4 separate regions of the Homo sapiens genome follow, and all the other regions are linked to region 1. Evidence: fine-mapped expression QTL. A gene starts in region 1. Each other region holds a variant in brackets. All regions are shown on one strand. Distances are from middle to middle. Region 1 holds the start of ZNF124 (zinc finger protein 124). Region 2 has its middle 29 kb from the start of ZNF124. Region 3 overlaps AHCTF1 (AT-hook containing transcription factor 1). Region 4 overlaps ZNF670-ZNF695 (ZNF670-ZNF695 readthrough (NMD candidate)).

The links.
Region 2: its variant is fine-mapped to the expression of ZNF124 in blood mononuclear cells (TOPMed, PIP 0.90).
Region 3: its variant is fine-mapped to the expression of ZNF124 in skeletal muscle (FUSION, PIP 0.92).
Region 4: its variant is fine-mapped to the expression of ZNF124 in visceral fat (GTEx, PIP above 0.99). The same link has a PIP of 0.9 or more in breast and skeletal muscle.

What each region holds. Positions count from the first base shown.
Region 1 is chr1:247,170,502-247,173,187 of GRCh38, reverse strand. It overlaps ZNF124 (zinc finger protein 124), which reads left to right and starts at 1,168. Exons shown (of 4, transcript NM_001297568.2): 1 at 1,168-1,340. The coding sequence starts at 1,311.
Region 2 is chr1:247,141,781-247,144,466 of GRCh38, reverse strand. It overlaps a transcript of ZNF124 not described here. Among named protein-coding and RNA genes, the nearest start is that of ZNF124, 29 kb to the left of the region's middle. The variant AACAC/C (reference allele first, on the strand shown) is at 1,515.
Region 3 is chr1:246,866,892-246,869,577 of GRCh38, reverse strand. AHCTF1 (AT-hook containing transcription factor 1) reads left to right here. Exons shown (of 36, transcript NM_001323342.2): 25 at 1,767-1,917; 26 at 2,227-2,334. Among named protein-coding and RNA genes, the nearest start is that of AHCTF1, 64 kb to the left of the region's middle. The variant TGG/G (reference allele first, on the strand shown) is at 1,675.
Region 4 is chr1:246,975,551-246,978,236 of GRCh38, reverse strand. The region is part of intron 5 of ZNF670-ZNF695 (ZNF670-ZNF695 readthrough (NMD candidate)); the gene reads left to right. It also overlaps a transcript of ZNF695 not described here. Among named protein-coding and RNA genes, the nearest start is that of ZNF695, 31 kb to the left of the region's middle. The variant T/G (reference allele first, on the strand shown) is at 1,483.

The DNA of each region.
Region 1 (2,686 bases):
ATGCATGTGATTTGTGCTTAAACTCACACACTTAAATTCCACACCACAGGAGGAAACAGAAAACCACAGCCTGACCATTAGGGCCAAAGCCAAATTGCAAAATGAGAAGTTTGTCTTTAATGTATTCCCTCTACATCTAAAGTCCTGAGGTTAAGGCTGTGGACAAATCTGAAGACATGGGTTTTCTTCTCCTGGGGCCCCTCATCTTTTTTTCACTGTCTTATCTATAGAAGAGGCTGGGCCCCTGGCAAGAGCAGGTGGGAAATAGTAGACTCCCTCTAGATACTTCTTTATTGCAGCCCACTTCTCTCTCTGGGCACTGTCTCTGCCACCCTTGGGCCTGAGGAGAGATGTTAGCAGAAGGAGGGCATTCCCTCACCTCTAGCAGAAAAGAGGGGTTCGGGCCCTTCACTCCCTGAGGTCAGGGGAACCAGAGCCCTCAAAACTGCACTTCAGTGTGACAGTCATTGCCCACAGGGGTCTACTTAGCACCTAGAATGTGGCTGGTCTGAATCGGTACATGCTGGAAGTTTAAAACGCAGAGTGACTTTGAAAGATTTAGTACCAAAAAACAGAACAACAAAAAATACTTCATTAATATTATATTTATCATATATTTAAATTATAATATTTTGTATATATTGAGTTAAATAAAGTATTGCAATCAATTTTACCTGTTTATTCCTCGTTTCTGTTGCTACTAGAAATTTTAAAATGACACCTGTGGCTCACATGTGATTTCTGTGGAAATCGCAGCCTTGGAGGATTGCTTCCCTTTTCAAAACTCGGGCTCCTCAGACTGCTTCCTCAGAAGACCAGAGGCCATGAAGGTTAATAAGTCTGAAATTTTAAAAGAATTATTATTATATTGTTTCCTATTTTAAATATCATATATATTATTCACAAATGAATGTAACATTGTATACAAGGTTAAGTGTATATAAATGAATGTCCCCTAGGCAAGGCTGGGTCCCAACCCAGAGAGGAAACCCTCTTGGAGAAGAGCTGTAGCCAGAACGCTGCCTCATTCAGACACGCGCGGGAGCTGTCACCTGTCACTAAGAGTCTGAGGGGGCGGGGCCTGAGGCCCTACCCAATCAGGGGCACCGGGGCGGGGACTGCCTAATCCGGCGCTCCGCTAGAAAACCCGAGGCGGCTTCCGGGTGTGCCCGGCCTTTGTCTCTCGTGCCCGCACGTGCGTGTCTCGGTCAGTAGCCCTGCGCTTCTCCTTCACTCTCGGCGGTTCAGGAGGCTCTGCCGCAGCCGGGGCCCTCCTGTGACCTGCATGTACTGGGGGATTCGCAGGGAGGATGTCGGGACACCCCGGAAGCTGGGAAATGGTGAGTTGCGCCGCCGGGGGTCTGGAGAAGGGAAGGGGCTGTGGCGGCCCCGGGCCCCGGGCTCCCAGCGGTCGGCTCCCGAGGGCGGACCCGGGTCCCTGCTGGCGCGGCGCGGCGCGGCCCTCGGTCCTTTCTGGCGCCCGGCAGAGCTGGGCGGGCAGCGGCACCCCGGGCTCCGGTCCCGTCTCTGCACCGCGACTTCCGTCCTGCCCGAAGCAGCTTCCCTCCCCGGCCCGCGCCCGCAGCCCCGCGGCTCCTCGGGATCCTGCAGTGAGACCCGAGGCGCCTCAGGGGAGAGGCCCAGCGCGGTGTGCGGGCTCGCGCCTGCGAGGAGCTGTGGCCACTGGCGTTTCCAGTCCCTCCTTAATCCTGTTAAAAATTAAACTGAGGTTTAATTAAAGCGTTACAGAGTTTGAGCAAACAGCGATTCATGAGTAGGGGAGCACCCAGCCACGGTTTTTGGTTTGTGGGCCACCGGACGGTCTTGATGGAAAGGCTTCTGTAAAGTGTGTAAGGAAACAAACCAAATTTATTTATTTTTTATTTTAATGATCGGGTGGGGCGGGGGGGGGGTCTCCCTGTGTTGCCCAGGCTGGTCTTGAACTTCTGGTCTCAACCTCCCGAAGTGCTGGGATTACCCCGCCCAGCCCAAAGCAACCCCAATTTAATAACTGATTGGTTATAATTATGTAGTTCTGTTATTCGGATTATTTAGGTGGATGGTTCCTGGTTATGTAATCAGAGGTAAATTGCTGATTTGGGGTTAAGTTTTCTTTCCCTTCAAGTTAATTACAAGAAAGGCATGAAGTACCTTTAGGTTTTCTTGGTGAGGAACTCAGGGCACCATCATCACTTAAGGGAGGAGACCACCCCTCATATTGTCTTATGCCCAATTTCTGCCTCCAAAGAAAGAAGAAGTAAAAACTAAAAGGCAGAAATGAAATCCACAGGCAGACAGCCCGGCGCCGCGTCCTGGGCCTGGTTACAGATTGACCCTTGACCTGACCGGTTGTGTTATCTATAGATTCCAGACATTGTATGGAAAAGCACTGTGAAAATCCCTGTCCTGTTCTGTTCCGTTCTGATTGCCGGTGCATGCAGCCCCCAGTTATGTACCCCCTGCTTGGTCAATCGATCACGACCCTCTCACGTGGACCCCCTTAGAGTTGTAAGCCCTTAAAAGGGACAGGAATTGCTCACTTGGGGAGCTGGGTTTTTGGAGACGTGAGTCTTGCCAAAGCTTCCGGCAGAATGAAGCCCTTCCTTCTTTAACTCGGTGTCTGAGGGGTTTTGTCTGCAGCTTGCCCTGCTACAACTTCAGTCTAATTTCTTCCTATTTAATTATT
Region 2 (2,686 bases), 29 kb after region 1:
CAGCTCTAAACCCTAGCTTTCCCCTAACTGCCCCAAGCCTAGTTTGTAGTAGGCTGAGTGGCAACCTAGCCCAAAGTGGGATTATGATACTCCAACTTAGTTGTGGTTGAGTTTTATGTAAACATTTTTGTCGCTATTTCATCTGGCTTTTCTAGATAAAATGTCTAGGAGAAGGTAGGGAGTGACCAGAATAAAGGTGAAATTCTTGGTGCTGAATGAGATACACTAATTTTGTGGATGTAGTTGGGGAGGGATAGCTACCCGAAACCCGCAGAGTAAACAACTGAGACCTCAGGAGATATGGAGAATGGAAGGGCATTAATAACTTTTTGTCTTTCTGAATCACCCTTAGTGAGGGCCAAAGAAAAATCTGGAAATCATGTTGGGAAAGGACAGGGTTAGTATTGGAGCAGATGGTAGGGCAGATGCTGTGGGTTCATATCCTTTTGGTCTCTCCACATCACCCTTCACGGTCCTTTGGGATTGTTCTATCTCTCTCTGTGATGTGGATGTGGAGTTTTATTGAGCATGCATGCTTACTGCCTAGCTGTCTGAGGCTACGGGGGTAGATGATGGAGAACTGTTACTTTTTTTTCTGAGAGACTTAGTATCTCATGGCTGAGCTTAAGCTGGATCTATGGAGCACTGATCCCATTGTCTACTTCTGTGAGCTAGTGCTCCTCCATCTAGTTTCTACCATCTAGAGACGAATCTTATCAATACTTGGGTAAACCAAAGACATAAGTCAGGTAAGGGAATCCTAGACATAGCCCGACTCTTGCCTTTTTCCTCTTCTCACTTTAAATCTTGTTGGCTCAGAGAGTTACCCTCAGATGGAGTCTCTCAGGAGTAATTAGAACATTGTACTTCTAGAGAAGCTGGTGGAACAGGGTAGGGTTCCCAGTTCAAAGCTTCTGTCAAAAACTTCCAGTCTGTGTGTAGTAAATAAATCTAGAAACGATCCTAGAGCTCTGGATGGATCATTAAGAGAGGGCAGGATTTCTGTAGATCAGAATACCAGGACACATGTTCATCCGTCACCTTCCGGGGTCAAATTCTCGGTTAAGCCTGTGTGGTAGGGCTGTAGAGCAGTGTGTGCCTGGGAAAGCCTCTGATCACACATTTCCTCAGGGATTTTTTAGGCCTGATGTCCCTTTGAATTTACTTTAACAATCCTTTTGTAATTTTATTTTTTACATCAATTGTAACTTAGTATTATTATATATATAGGCATTTGGGTGTGTCTTGAAGGCATGTCCTGGTTTCAAACTGATTTGTGGTATATTATTGAATTAGGCCCATTTACTGGAATTATAAACTGCTATCCAACTACACAAAGAGCTGAGGATTCTGGGGAGGTCAGGATGGAGATGAAATAGAAGTGAGGAGAAAATAGCTCTCTCTCTCACATGCAGATTCTTTATGGATAAAATGCATAATTACCTAAAATTTAAAATACTCAAAAAATTATCTAATCAGTATGTAATGGAAATTATAGAGCAAAGAACAAAACA[AACAC/C]CAAAATAATTTTCTTTTTTCTACATAAAAATTAAATAATTTACATAATGAAATATTCCATGATCCCAGTGTAAAATGCCAATAGAATATATGTAAAAAAAAAAAAAGACAATACCTGTATTAGATTTAAAATCTTCTACAATACATAAGATGAATTGAAATTTTTAGAGTAGAAGAAAGTTTAAAATTAGGTAAATGATATGAGCCAGGTGAAGAATAGGATCATTAAGCATTTAATATACCTTGTCTTAGATTCTGTGTAAGAAAATGAAAAGTAAAAACAATGGCATGGTGATTTCATCAAACTGAAAAAATAGAAGCATTTCTCCAGAGAGAATGCTATTAAAGGTTGGTGAATATCAATCTTCTGAGGACTCGGCCTGGGAGAGTGAAGAGCTACAGCCTTTTCTGAGTTCAAGTGGGGAAGATATAAATATATATTCATTTTGCTACTCTTTTTAATATACAAACATATATGAATGATTACACCCTAATAATATTTTCTGATTTACAGAAATGCATGACTGTCATAAGACAGCCAAAAGACATCAGATGTCTTATATGAAATACAAAATTTGTCAGTAATCAGCCTTAAAGAAAACTGGGTTTACCATTTTCAGTATATTGTTCAAATTCCTTTTCTACAACCACCACAGGTTCTGTTATTAACATGGTGTGTCTAAAGTTGTCACTGCTGGTCATCCAGAAGAATCTGAGAAGCAGCAAGTCTTTGTTTTCACTCCCAGACCTGTTTTCTTTGCTGAATAGGGTCAGGAGACCCCCAGGTCAAGCTTCATCTCATCTATAGATAGGCTGAGTTACCTTTGGTCCAAAAAAGGGCTGGTCCTATCTTTCTCCCAGAAGGAGCTCTGGACTTCTCCAGCCAGGGCTGGACCCTGGCACAAGTCAGGGTGGCTGAGATTCCCAGCCCTCAGCAGGGAACCCAGGCCACCTGGGAGTCCATGGTGTAGAAGTTCTGCACTGCAGCACAGAGGCCCCCAGAGCTGGCAAGCTAAGAGAGCTGCTCCCAGGTCAGCAGAGAATGGACCTACTGTGCTTGTGTCTGAACTAGGTCTTGATAAATGGCCTCAGACTTACCATAGAGGTCACCAGGCTTTTCAGAACTGGCAGCAGGTGGTCTCCTGGGGACTGAGATATGGGCTGCTTG
Region 3 (2,686 bases), 300 kb after region 1:
TTTGGAATGGTGATTGCCTTTAATTTAAAGTCATCAGCTACATTAACCACTAACAGCAGAGTCACCCTGTCCTTTGAAGCCAGGCATTGACTTCTCCATTCATGTGTTCACTGACGTAGCACTTTTAATTTCCTTCAGGTTCTTTTTTGCATTTACAACTTGGCTAACTGGCATAAGAGGTCTAGCTTTTGATTTAAAGTCCTAGACATGTGACTCCTCCTTTCACATGAACACTTGAGGTCTTTGTAGGGTTATTAGTTGGCTTTGGATATTGTCAGTCTCAAGGAATAAGGGAGGTCCTCGGGGAAAGGGAGAGACGCGGGGGAACAGTTAGTCAGTGGAGTAAGTACACGCTGTTGGAAAAATGGTGCCAGTAGACTTGCTGGACACAGGGTTGCCACAGACCTTCAATTTGTTTAAAAAAACAAAACACACGGCCGGGCGTGGTGGCTCACGCCTGTAATCCAGCACTTTGGGAGGCCAAGGCGGGCGGATCACGAGGTCAGGAGATCGAGACCATCCTGGCCAACATGGTGAAACCCCGTCTCTACTAAAAATAGAAAAAGTTAGCCAGGCATGGTGGCGGGCGCCTGTAGTCCCAGCTACTCAGCAGGCTGAGGCAGGAGAATGGCGTGAACCCGGGAGGCAGAACTTGCAGTGAGCCGAGATCACACCACTGCACTCCAACCTGGGTGACAGAGCGAGACTCCATCTCAAAAAAAAAAAAAAAACAAAAAACACACACACAATGAAGCAAAGCACAATAAAATGAGGTAGACCTGTACTCATTCATCACGTGGTACTTTTTTATTGGCTGCTCTGTAACCCAAGAAATGTAAGCCTTTCTTAGAAGATTTGACTGTTTATTTACTAGTGTATGCATAATGAAAGAACTCCTATTTCAGTTGAAGGCACATGTCCAACTTCTAGAAAACACAAAGAATAACTTTTTTTTTTTTTTTTTTTACCACTTACCAAAAGCCCAACTTCCTAAATCCAGCATAGCTATAATGAAACAAAATGTAGGCCAGGCCGGTGGCTCACACCTCTATCCCAGCACTTTGAGAGGCCGAGGAGGGAGGATCACTTGAGGCCCGGAGTTTGAGACCAGTCTGGCCAACATGGTGAAACCCTGTCTCTACTAAAAATACAAAAATTGCCAGGCGCAGTGGCTCACGCCTGTAATCCCAGCACTTTGGGAGGCCAAGGCGGGTGGATCACATGAGGTCAGGAGTTCAAGACCAGCCTGGCCAACATGGTGAAACCCTTTACTTTAGAATACAAAAATTAGCGTGGTGGCACATTCCTGTAGTCCCAGCTACTCGGGAGGCTAAGGCAGGAAAATCACTTGAGTCTGGCAGGCAGAGGTTGCAGTGAGCCAAGATTGTGCCACTGCACTCCAGCCTGGGCTACAGAGCAAGACTCCGTCTCAAAAAAAAAAAAAAAAAATTAGCCGGGCTTGGTGGCCATGCCTGTAATCCCATCTACTTGGGAGGCTGAGGCAGGAGAATCGCTTGAACCCAGGAGGCAGAGGGTGCAGTGAGCCGAGATCATGCCACTGCCCTCCAGCTTGAGTGACACAGCAAGACTGGTCTAAAAGAAAAAAAATTAATTATATATATATAATTAAAATTTTTAGCTAGTATTACCACGTAATGTGTGTGTGTGTGTGTG[TGG/G]GGGGGGGGGTGTAATCATTCTTTCATATGCTTTTATTAAATTCCCGTTTGTTAGAGATGCACTTAATTCCAGCGTTCTTCATTTTACAGTTTCTAGACCCAAACCATTATCAGCAGTTCCAAAGCAAGTTGTAACAGGAACTGTGTTGACAAGATCTGTTTTCATCAACAATGTGTTATCTAAAATTGGAGAAGTTTGGGCAAGCAAAGAACCTATAAATAGCACCACACCTTTCAATAGGTATGTTTTCTTACACGTTTCATAGTCATGCTGCTTGTTAATCTTTACTGGACATCAACAGCGTTCATCAACAATCCACTCTCTTTGCCTAAGTTTATTAGTGTATGTAAAAAAGAAAAACTCTTTATGTTGGCTATGTTTCTGAGAAGAATTTTTAAAAACCTTTAAAAGTGAAATGTTCATTATTATTTGTAAGCAATGCAGAACTGTACAAAGTAAAACGAATGAAAACCCTCTGTTCTCCCATCTCATCCACTTGTTATCAGTGCTCCTTGTGATACATCAGAAGTTAAATTTTTATTTTCATAGTTCTAAAATAGAAGAACCATCTCCTATAGTGTATTCGCTCCCAGCTCCAGAGCTGCCTGAGGCATTTTTTGGAACACCAATTTCAAAAGCATCACAAAAAATTTCTAGGTAAGAGTTTATTAAATCATTCTTAGAGACACAATGTTAGATGATAGTTACAATTGTAATTTTTAATTATCTTTAACATTTTATAGACTTTTAAATTATTAAATGAATATTTTAATGTTTGCTTTTTATTATACTTTGGGCAGCAGTAATTTTAGGAAATTTTACATCAGGTAGTAGTATACTTAAAATTTTTGTTCAATAATTTCAGACTGCTTAGTGGACAGGAGTGAAGTTTGTCTCATGAGCAAACTATTAACTTACTTTCCTTGTTACCTGCTTGTTAGTAGACCTCTAAATGAGGGTTGTTTTTATACTTAATTACAGATTAATCTTGGGTAGCTCATTGAAGCTT
Region 4 (2,686 bases), 190 kb after region 1:
GAATGTATTCTGAATTTGAGGGTTTTTTCATAACACCCTGTTCCAGTGCACAATGTAAATAGCCTTTTTGTCAGAACTCATGATAGTACAGGTAGCAGCAGCCACTCCCAATCATGTCTCCTGTGTTCTGCTACAGAGAAATGTTTCTGCTTACATTGGTGGCCGAGTGATAGTGTTCTGCTCCATGAGATTTAGAGAGAAGTGCCTGAACAGGTTGGCCTTCTCTGAATTAAAAAACACTGGTTTTTAATAACATTCCCTGTCCTATTAGCTTCACATTTTTCTCCTTGTTGCTGTTTGGAATGTGATTCAATTGCCTGGAGGTGGATCAGCCGACTTGGGTTCTGAAGGAGTGAGCTTGAGCACAATGACCAGGTGTAGACCATTTCAGAGACAGGAAATGGAAAGAAACTGGCACACTATAAGGTCACTGCACTATTAGTTCTGCTGCCCAAGTACGTAAGAGTACACCTCATATGTTCTGATACTATACAAAAGTCTTTTCTTTGTAGCTGAACGCAAACTAATTGCTACAGAATGAGATGTATGAAAGTTTTTAGAATCAAAATGAAATCACCAATGTCATAAAAACTCTGACAAATAGAGATGCTGGAAGAGAGTGTTATTAAGCTTATACACCTGATAACAAAGCTATCCTAAAAGACTTTTAAAAACTTTATCCTTTTGCCGGGTGTGGTGGCTCATGCCTGTAATTCCAGCACTTTTGGAGGCTGAGGCGGGTGGATCACGAAGTCAGGCTTTCGAAACCTGGCCAACATGGCAAAACCCCGCCTCTACTAAAAACAACAAAAATTAGCCAGGTATGGTGGCGGGCACCCGTAGTCTCAGCTACTCAGGAGGCTGAAGCAGGAGAATCGCTTGAACCCAGGAGGCAGAGGTTGCAGTGAGCCAAGATCACACCACTGCACTCCAGCCTGGGCGACAGACCGACTCTGTCTCAAAAACAACAACAAAAAATGTATCCTTTCATAAAGGCCTTCACAACCTTGTACAAAACATTTCTATTGAGCCATTAAAATACCAGTGGGCACTGATGAGTAGATTTATTTTGGCACATATGAAAGTTTTTGTTAGCTGGCACAACGCTCTTACATTTATATCTGGGGCTTGAGGGAACATAAAAAATGCTCATAAACTTTGCGAATGGCAGGGAACTGGGAATGATAGAAAATATGTGCGTAACTGATCTGAGGTTGACTTTGTAAGTATTGTTGTAGTTTGGATATGTGTCCCTGCCCAAATCTCATGTTGAATTGTAAATTTATAATGTCTAAAGTTTAAAAAGTAGCTGCTTCTCATTCTGGTTTTCTGAACTTTATAGAGGCAAATAAATTTTCAGTCTGATTTGGGGGTCTCTTATTTGGCTTTGCATTTTCTCTTCAGGATAAATTCAGTGTTATTTATTTATTTATTTATTTATTTGAGACGGAGTTTCGCTCTGTCGCCCAGGCTGGAGTGCAG[T/G]GGCGCGATCTCAGCACACTGCAAGCTCTGCCTCCCGGGTTCATGCCATTCTTCTGCCTCAGCCTCCCGAGTAGCTGGGACTACAGGTGCCCGCCACCATGCCTGGCTAATTTTTTGTATTTTTAGTAGAGACGGGGTTTCACCGTGTTAGCCAGGATGGTCTCGATCTCCTCACCTCGTGATCTGCCCGCCTTGGCCTCCCAAAGTGCTGGGATTACAGGTGTGAGCCACCGCGCCCGGCCAGTGTAATTTACTCCTTTTGTCATGTGTTGTTTATTTACAGCAAATGTTGCCTACTACAACATTCCCACTGAAATAGAATGTCTTATGTCTTTGAATGCCTCAAAAGGATTTAAAGAAATAATAACTGATCCTTGAGCACATATACCTACAGGGATATAGCAATCATTGAGCTAAATAATTAGCTAATTAAAAAATTGTTTTGCAAATGTAGAAATGACTATTTCATTCTTGTTGTGGTGCTTCTGTAACCTTGTGTTCTGTCCCCCATGTGGACAGTGTGCCACATCTAGTTTCTGCATAGATTTCAAGAGAGACATAAGGACAAGTTTTTTATGTGTGAGGATGCAGCTTAGGGCAGCAACATTGCACACCAATTATAAACCAATAAAGTTCTTGTCCCTGCCTCTCCCTCAGCGTCTCCCTCACCAGCCAGTATCAGCAGATGGTCTATCTCATTCTTCATGGGAAAACAGAAACTGTTCATCTTATGCTTGGGAAGCCTCTCTCTCTTAACCTTGAGATTTCCCTTCAGAGATGGTCGTTTCCTCCTTCCCTCCTGCCTAATAGAATAAGTTATTCTCTTCGCCTAATAGAATAAGTTGTTCTCTTCGCCTAATAGAATAAGTTGTTCTCTTCTCTTTTACCTCTTTTGAGACTTAGCCTCTTTAAAGATTCCCTTTTGTTTTAGTTGTCTTCGATTTTTCTTTCACTTGGCTTAATTCCCTCAGAGACATAATTTAAATCATTTTCTTGATACTGTCTCCTGCTCAGTTTACACCTTAGCTTACTCCTTACTGTCAATGAAAATCTTGGGAGGGTTGTATATGCTTCCTAGCTCCTCTGCCTCATGATTACTCCTCAGCCCTCAGCATTTGCATGCCAAACTCTGAACTTTCATGTTCTCAGCATGTTAGTAAAACTGTTCTTGTTTCATTTTACTTAAGTTCGAAGCACTGTATTA